2 linked regions of the Homo sapiens genome follow. The protein of the gene in region 2 purifies or fractionates together with the protein of the main gene of each other region. This does not show direct contact. Each region holds a gene or a part of one and is shown on either strand. Other genes may lie near its edges.

Evidence for each region. Proteins that work in one complex are often made in the same cells at the same time.
Region 1: the proteins of HPN (region 2) and MGAT1 purify together in Homo sapiens (co-immunoprecipitation; 2 studies listed by BioGRID and IntAct, with this or other methods). This does not show direct contact.

What each region holds. Positions count from the first base shown.
Region 1 is NC_000005.10:180,800,622-180,804,366, reverse strand, and holds the start of MGAT1 (alpha-1,3-mannosyl-glycoprotein 2-beta-N-acetylglucosaminyltransferase), read left to right. Parts: upstream 1-1,560; 5' UTR 1,561-1,687; exon of another isoform or gene 1,688-1,691; intron 1,692-3,745. UniProt on the Homo sapiens protein: Initiates complex N-linked carbohydrate formation. Essential for the conversion of high-mannose to hybrid and complex N-glycans.
Region 2 is NC_000019.10:35,048,141-35,051,785, forward strand, and holds part of HPN (serine protease hepsin precursor), read left to right. Parts: intron 1-1,122; exon of another isoform or gene 1,123-1,149; coding exon 1,150-1,251; intron 1,252-1,334; coding exon 1,335-1,376; intron 1,377-2,305; coding exon of another isoform or gene 2,306-2,381; intron 2,382-3,645. UniProt on the Homo sapiens protein: Serine protease that cleaves extracellular substrates, and contributes to the proteolytic processing of growth factors, such as HGF and MST1/HGFL. Plays a role in cell growth and maintenance of cell morphology.

The sequences.
Region 1 (3,745 bases), on a different chromosome or scaffold from region 2:
CAGAGCCCTCTCAAAGCACTGGCGCTGGAGGATGTGTGCGGGGGTGTTGGGGGGCGCACAGGAGTGCCCGGTCTAAAACCTGGCTATGCTCCCCACCAGGTCTGGTGGCTTGCAGCACGTTTGCACTTACCCTGAGCCTCAAACTAGTTATCTGTAGAATGGGGATGATAACGCTCACTCCGCAGAGCTGCTGAGGCTTGAAGGACAGGCCGAGGGAGGGTTTGGCCCGTGAGGCCCCTCACCATGCCTGGTGACCCCTTAGCAGTTTTGATTTAGGTCCTCGCCTCCACGCAGGGGCCTGCGGGTGCGCGCGGCCCTTTGTTTCTCTAGAACCCTGCACGATTCGTGGTTTCATGTAGAAACAAGTTAGTGAGCAGTCAGTCAGTAACCACAGGCCGCAGAGTTCCGGGCTGCTCCGTGCTCTGGAACACGGGGGAGGGGTTGATGTCAGGGGCGTGGGTCCTGATCACATGGCAGCAGCCCTTCTTGGGGAAGTCAGCTACCCAGCAGCCTGTAGTCCTCGGCTACCCACCCTCACCGCCTGGGGTCCCATGGTGAGACAGCTGGGTGGGCATCAGGCTTCTGCAGAGGGCCAGGCCGGAGGGAGCTGGGCGAGGGAGTGGGGCTGGCTCCTGGCTTGCACCGGCCTCGTGGAATCCAGGCCTCAGACCTGATCGCTGGCGAAACTGGCTCTGTGCGCTGGAGCCCCTGGTCTTCTGCGTCTGTCCTCCTCCCGGCCAGACTTTACTCCTGGCTCAGCGACAGGTATTTGCTATGGAAGAGCTGTCCCTCCCTCCCCTCGGTGGGCCTGGGTCCACCTCCACCTCCTCTTCAGGTCCGCACCTTCCTCCCCTTTAAAACACCAGCCGGGCGCAGACCCGTTCTAGGCTTTTCCATGGTGCTTCCGCCAAAGCTTGTGACCGAGTCCTTCCCGCCTAGGGCTGGTGGGCCTCCCCTGCTGGTAGGTCTCTCTTCGCTTTCTTTACTCAGAACTGAAGCTCTCATTCCCCACCCACCAAGGAAAAACAAAAGGGAAGAAGCCACAGCTGGCCCCGGCTTGCTTTGGCACAGGTGTTTCCCCCCGGCCCCCCGTCGGGCACCCTGGTTCCTGTTCTGTCCCTGCCCCACGCGACCCTGGGGCTCCCACCCGGGCTCCTCAGCCTCCCCTGGGTTGGGGTGGGGGGACTGGCTCCCAGCCCTTGGCCTAGGGTTTGGTGAACGCCTTTCCTGGACTGCGGGCCCACTTCAGGCGCGGCTCCAGGCTGGGCAGCTGCGCTGGAGGGCCGAGGGCAGGGGTGGGGTCGGGCGTCCACCCTCAGGGTTGCGCCAGGGAGCCGGAAAGCCGACTCCCGAAGTTGGGGTCCTGGGAAAACTTGGGTCCTGGGTTGACTGAGAAGCGGCGGGGAAAGGAGGCGGGCCAGGAGGAGGGGGCCTGGCGGACGCCGGCCGGGGGGCGGGGCGCGGCGGGGCTGTCGGTCACGCCCCTCAGTCCGCCCCGCCCCGCCCCGCCTGCCGGGGAAGGGCCACGTTGCCCGCCCGGCCGTCCGGCCCCGGCGCGCCGCAGAAAGGGCTGGCGAGTCGAAAGGCGAGGCGGCCGCGGCAGCGCTTGGGACGCGCCTGGGCACCGGGCTCGCTCCCTGCGCCCCGGAGCAGGCCAAGTTCGGGGCCAGGACGTCGGGAGGACCTGGTGAGTAGGTGTCCGGGGACGGAGGTCAGACCGGGGGAGGCCTCGCGGGCGCCGAGAGGGAGCCCAAGGGACGTCGGGTCGCCCCAAAGCCCCGGTGCCCATGAGTGCTAGCGAGAGGGGGCTTGGCTGGGGAGCGGCCCGGTCCGACCCGGTGCCAGCTGCGCGTTAGTCCCTTCCCGAGCCGAGAGGTTGGAACTCCGCCTTCTGCTTTCGGAATCCCGGGCCTCCAGCTGTTAGAGGAAGGGCGGGCTCCGCGGACTGGGGAGGATGTTGTGAAACTCGGCCCCGGGCGTCCGTGCGTGCGGGGCAGGGAGGGGGTGGGATTGGGGAGTGGCCTTTCCCCCCTAACCTCACTCCAGCATCCTTTCCCCAAGTTAATAGAGGCTGATTCTCCTCAGCAGAAAGGAAATGTTGATTCAGTGTTGAAATATATATATAATAAGTTGGCAAGAAAACTTTTCTTCCTGTTTGCTAACGTGTGTGGAGTAGAGAGCCCCGGGACGTGCAGTGCCCGCGTCTGATAAACTCTGAAGTAGAGGGACTGTGGCTGGCCGGCTCCCTGAAGGCTGAAGCTTCACTTTGGTTAACCCTTGCTGCTGTAGTGGGTCTGCCGTTTTGTTTTAGAACATCACTGGCTGAGATGTTGCCCAGCTTTATTTTCAGTCATTTACGGTATTTTTTCAGGCCGTGTAGCCTTTGCTCTTACGTGCTCACATCATCCAGGATCTGCCTTCCATCAGCAATCACTGCGTCCTGGTCCTTCCCAATTCTGGGGACCATTGAGCTCACCCATTTCCCTGCTTCTGTGTCTCATTCTCACTGTTAGAAGCACTGCGGTATGCCTGACCTCAGTGGCCTGTGTTAACAAGGGAAACTCATTACTGTTCGGGGCAGTAGGGAAATTGTCACTGTCGTCAGTATCCAGGCAGTGGGACCTTGTGATGAACCAAATCAACCCTGTCACCTTATAGATGAGAGAACTAAGGTACAAGTGGGTCAAGTGACTTGTCCAAAGTTGCCTGGCTTGCTGGCTGGATCGCCTGAATCCCAGGCCTCATGCCTTTTGTGGCACTTGTATTTAGCTCTTCTTTTCCAGGATGAATAACCTGCATCCCTTCCCTCCTAGGTCTTATTCTCTCAACTCTTGAATTATTTAGTGTATCTTCTCTGACTACCTTTCTTTTTTTTCCGTCCTGAAATTATGGGCCTGGTACATGATACAGGAGTCCAGCCAAGGTCTAAGAACGAACATGAAAGCAGTTCAGTTAGAGTTCCATTACCTGTGACATGTCTATATTTTCTGGAATTTTTACGTAGTGCTTTTTAACTTTAAGCAAAGCAGAGATAGAAGGGAAAATCTGTTACCATTTCTTCCACTTCTGTACTTAATTTTACAGCTAAATATAACTTCTCGCTTATTGCTCATGATTGGAAGTTGACTATCTGGTGTTCACTTGCTATTTAAGAAACATTTTTTGCCAGATAAAGGAAATAGGCTGGAGAACACCATGGTATCAGAGTGTTAGAAAGGATCTCACAGCTCCTAGGCAGTCCTTCAAATGCTTCAGAAACTGAGTGAGCCCCATAGGGGCAGGTGGCGCCTACCCAGAGCCACCTCGGTTTTAGCTGAAGGGTTTTGTACTGAAAAGACTCACTTCTCATCTCCCACCATGGTGCAGATGTCTTTGTACCTGGTGGTGTGGATTGGCTGTGTCACCTCCCTAAAGGAGTTGTGAAAACTCTAGAAAGTCAAAGCCAGTTTTGAGTCTGTGCCTTGCATGCCAGTCTCATAAATGACATCATTAGGAACTCAGGTCAGGATTAAGGGCAGTTGTTCTATTTAAAAAGGAAGGTGTAGCAGATTGTATTTTCCCTCAAGGGCCTCACCCGTAAGTATCCCCTTCCACATGTAGTTATAGTTTGACATTGTCCACTTCCCACCTAGTGGTGGGGTTTATGATTCTCTCCCCTTGCATGTCAATAGGGACTTGTGGTTCCCTTGACCAGTGAGTAAGACAGACCTGATCCAAGGCTGAATCAGGAACAGGATACACTTTC
Region 2 (3,645 bases):
GTTGCTCAGGCCCACACATCTCTGATGATTTATAAAGCATTTATAGAGAACTTGCTATGTGCCAGGCACTTCCGCACAGTGAGAGCCAGGATGGCTTCGTGGCTGTACACAGGGGACCTGGCATCAAACCTGCCCAGGGTTCTGGACGCTGCTCTGCCTCTTCCAGGCTGTCACTGTGGGCACGTGACCCCACTTCTCTGAGCTATCTCAAAAACAGGAATCATAGTTGTGGGATTGAAATAAGGACTAAATGAGCTGATGTATTTAGAACGGTGCTTAGCACCTGGAGGCATCAATACAATTTGAGCTATTCTTCTTCTTCTTGAAAATAACTTTAAATTATTATTTTTAGAAGTAGGTGCTCAGTGGATGCCCATTTAATAGATAAGAAAGTTGAGGCTCAAAGATATGATGGCACCTGCCTTAGGTTCCAGCTAGGAAGGGGTAGGGTCAATATTTTTAAATGAGGCTGGCCAGACGCAGTGGCTCACTCCTGTAATCTCAGCATTTTGGGAGGCTGAGGAAGGAAGATCGCTTCAGCCCAGGAGTTTGAGACCAGCCTGGGCAACATAGCAAGACCACGTCGCTAAAAAAATTAATACATAAAATAAAATGAGGCTGGCAGATTTTCAAGTGGAGGGGCAAATTTGATCTTGCAACTGGGTACCATGAGAGAGGTCTGATTTAGGGGGTATCTAGGGGCAAAGCATCTAGAACAGCAGAAACGACTGAGGCAGCGAGGAAATGCCAGCGGCAGGGAAGAGAGCTACCAAGAGGGCAAAGGTTGGGGGTCACAGTCCCAAGAAGAGATGGCCCAAAGCAAAGACAGAAATACAAAAGCACAGTGTCACTGGGGAGGAGACATTCCCTAAGTGCCAGGAAAGTGCAGGGCGGAGGTGGAGACCGTGGCAGGTGGCCCGGCCATGCCCCCCTCCCAGCTGGAACCCTGGGGGAGCTGGGCACCTGGTTGTTCACACGGCAGGGGAGGAACAGCCCTGTCAACTGCTGGCCCCGGGAAACTGGGCCTGGGGAGGACATGCTTGGGCATAATAAGTTAGCCCTGGGGGCAGGGCAGAGCTGGCCTCGGGCCCAGACCCTGCCGCAATGAGGACAGGCCTGGCTGTGGCCCCAGCATGGTGTCTGTTGCAGGTGGCCGGACTGTGCCATGCTGCTCCAGACCCAAGGTGGCAGCTCTCACTGCGGGGACCCTGCTACTTCTGACAGCCATCGGGGCGGCATCCTGGGCCATTGGTGAGAGCGGTTCCTGTGCCTCTGACCTCCCCTGGCCCCTGCAGCCTCCAGCCTGCCTGCCCTCACCCCTCCCTTCTCTGCAGTGGCTGTTCTCCTCAGGAGTGACCAGGAGCCGCTGTACCCAGGTGAGTGGAGCAGGCTGGGACCCTCTGGGGGAGCCCTGGAGGACACGTGTATCTGGCGGGAGCTCAACAAGCGTATTTGTTGAATAAATGCACAAATGCATGCAGAAATGCTAATCATAATAGTGCATTTGTATTGAGTGCCTGCTATGTACCAGGCACTATTCTAAGCACCCCACATGTCTAACCCAGACTTTTTCAGACACCAGTGTATTACTCATGAGTGCCTCATAAAATTAAATTAGTGAGTTGGAAAACCATGTTTTTTTTTTAAGTATGAAATAGATTCGATTACAGACTATCACAGTACATCTCTCAGTAAGTAAAGGTTATGCTAATTTTTGTTTGTTTTTTTTTTTTTTTGCATCCATATACATGTAATCCCACTGCATCCCCACACTCTGAGGGTGGGACTGTTATTCTCCCTGTTTTACAGATGGGGAAACTGAGGCTTTGAGCAATGCAGCAGTTTGCCCCAGACTACAGAGCTATGGGCTACATCAGGATGTAAAAATGTGTTTCTTACTGCGTGGCATGGTGAAAACATGTTGGGGAGGCATGATATAAATTCAGTGGACCCTTCTAACTCTCCTAGGAGGTAGTTTTTTTGTTTGTTTGTTTTAAAAAAGAAAAAAGTCTTGCTCTGTCACCCAGGCTAGAGTGCAATGGTGCAGTCTCAGCTCACCGCAACCTCTGCCTCCCAGGTTCAAGCGATTCTCCTGCTTCAGCCTCCCAAGTACCTGGGAATACAGGCGTGTGCCACCATGCCCAGTTAATTTTTTGTATTTTTAGTAGAGATGAGATTTCACCATGTTGGCCAGGACGGTCTCTATCTCCTGACCTTGTGATCCACCCGCCTCGGCCTCCCAAAGTGCTGGGATTACAGGCATGAGCCACTGCGCCTGTCCCTGGTAATTAGCTCCATTTTACAGATGTGCAAAATGAGGACCAGAGAGGACATGCAGCTGGGGAACGAGGGGCCAGGAACAGCTCTTAGACTTATCCACTGTAAGTGTGTCTGCAGGCATGTGGAATGAATGGCCACACAAATAAATAGATAAAGAAACTAACTGTGGGATGAATGAATGAATCTTCCCAAATGCCAACTTCAAGCTGCCATTCCCTGATGCAGGACAGCAGGAAAAAAGGGGAAGTTGGGTGGTGGGATGTATTTTTCATGTCTGTGAGCCTCATCTAATTCCATAAAGGATTCAGTTCACACTAAAATCAGAAATGAAAATCCAGACAAGAAAAGCCAACATCAACATTAATCATCATTACCAGCACTTAGCATTTGTATGCACCAGCCAAGGCCTTGGGACCTTATGATATCAACTCATTAAGTCTTCCCAACAACCTGTTGTTTTTCTTTTCTTTTTTTTTTCTTTCTTTCTTTCTTTCTTTTTTTTTTTTTTTTTTTTGAGATGGGGTCTTGCTCTGTCGCCCAGGCTGGAGTGCAGTGACACGATCTTAGCTCATTGTAACCTACATCTCCTGGGCTCAAGCAATCCTCCCATCTCAGCCTTCTGAGTAGCTGGGACTATAGGCTAATGCCACCATGCCTACACAAAATTATTTTGTCAATAACAAATTATTGTTATTTTTATCTTTTTGAGCCAGAGTCTCGCTGTGTCGCCCAGGCAGGAGTGCTGTGGCGCGATCTTGGCTCACTGCAATCTCCATCTCCCAGGTTCAAGTGATTCTCCTGCCTCAGCCTCCTGAGTAGCTAGGACTACAGGCACGTGCCACCACACCCAGCTAATTTTTGTATTTTTAGTAGAGGCGGGGTTTCACCATGTTGGCCAGGATGGTCTCAAACTCCTGACCTCAGGTGATCCACCCGTCTCGGCCTCCCAAAGTGCTGGGACTACAGGCATGAGCCACCACACCCAACCTCATTTTTTAAATTTTTAGTAGAGATGGGATCTTGCTACATTGCCCAGTCTGATCTTGAACTCCTGAGCTCAAAGCAGTCCTCTCAGATCAGCCTCCCAAAGTGCAGGGATTACAGGTGTGCACCACCACAACCCATTTTCCTATGGGGATGCTGAGGCACAGAAAGGCTGAGTGACTTGCCCCAGGTCATGGAGCTAGTCAGTGTCAGGGCTGGGATTTGAACCCAGGCAGCCTGCGTAGTAACTGTATATAGTGTCTACACTTGATTGCTTGTTAAAAAAAAAAAAAAAGAACAGCTGAATTCATTGCCATAGTAAAGACTGACATATGCCAGGCCCTGGCGGCAGCCTTTACCCAGCAGGCCTATGAAGTTAGG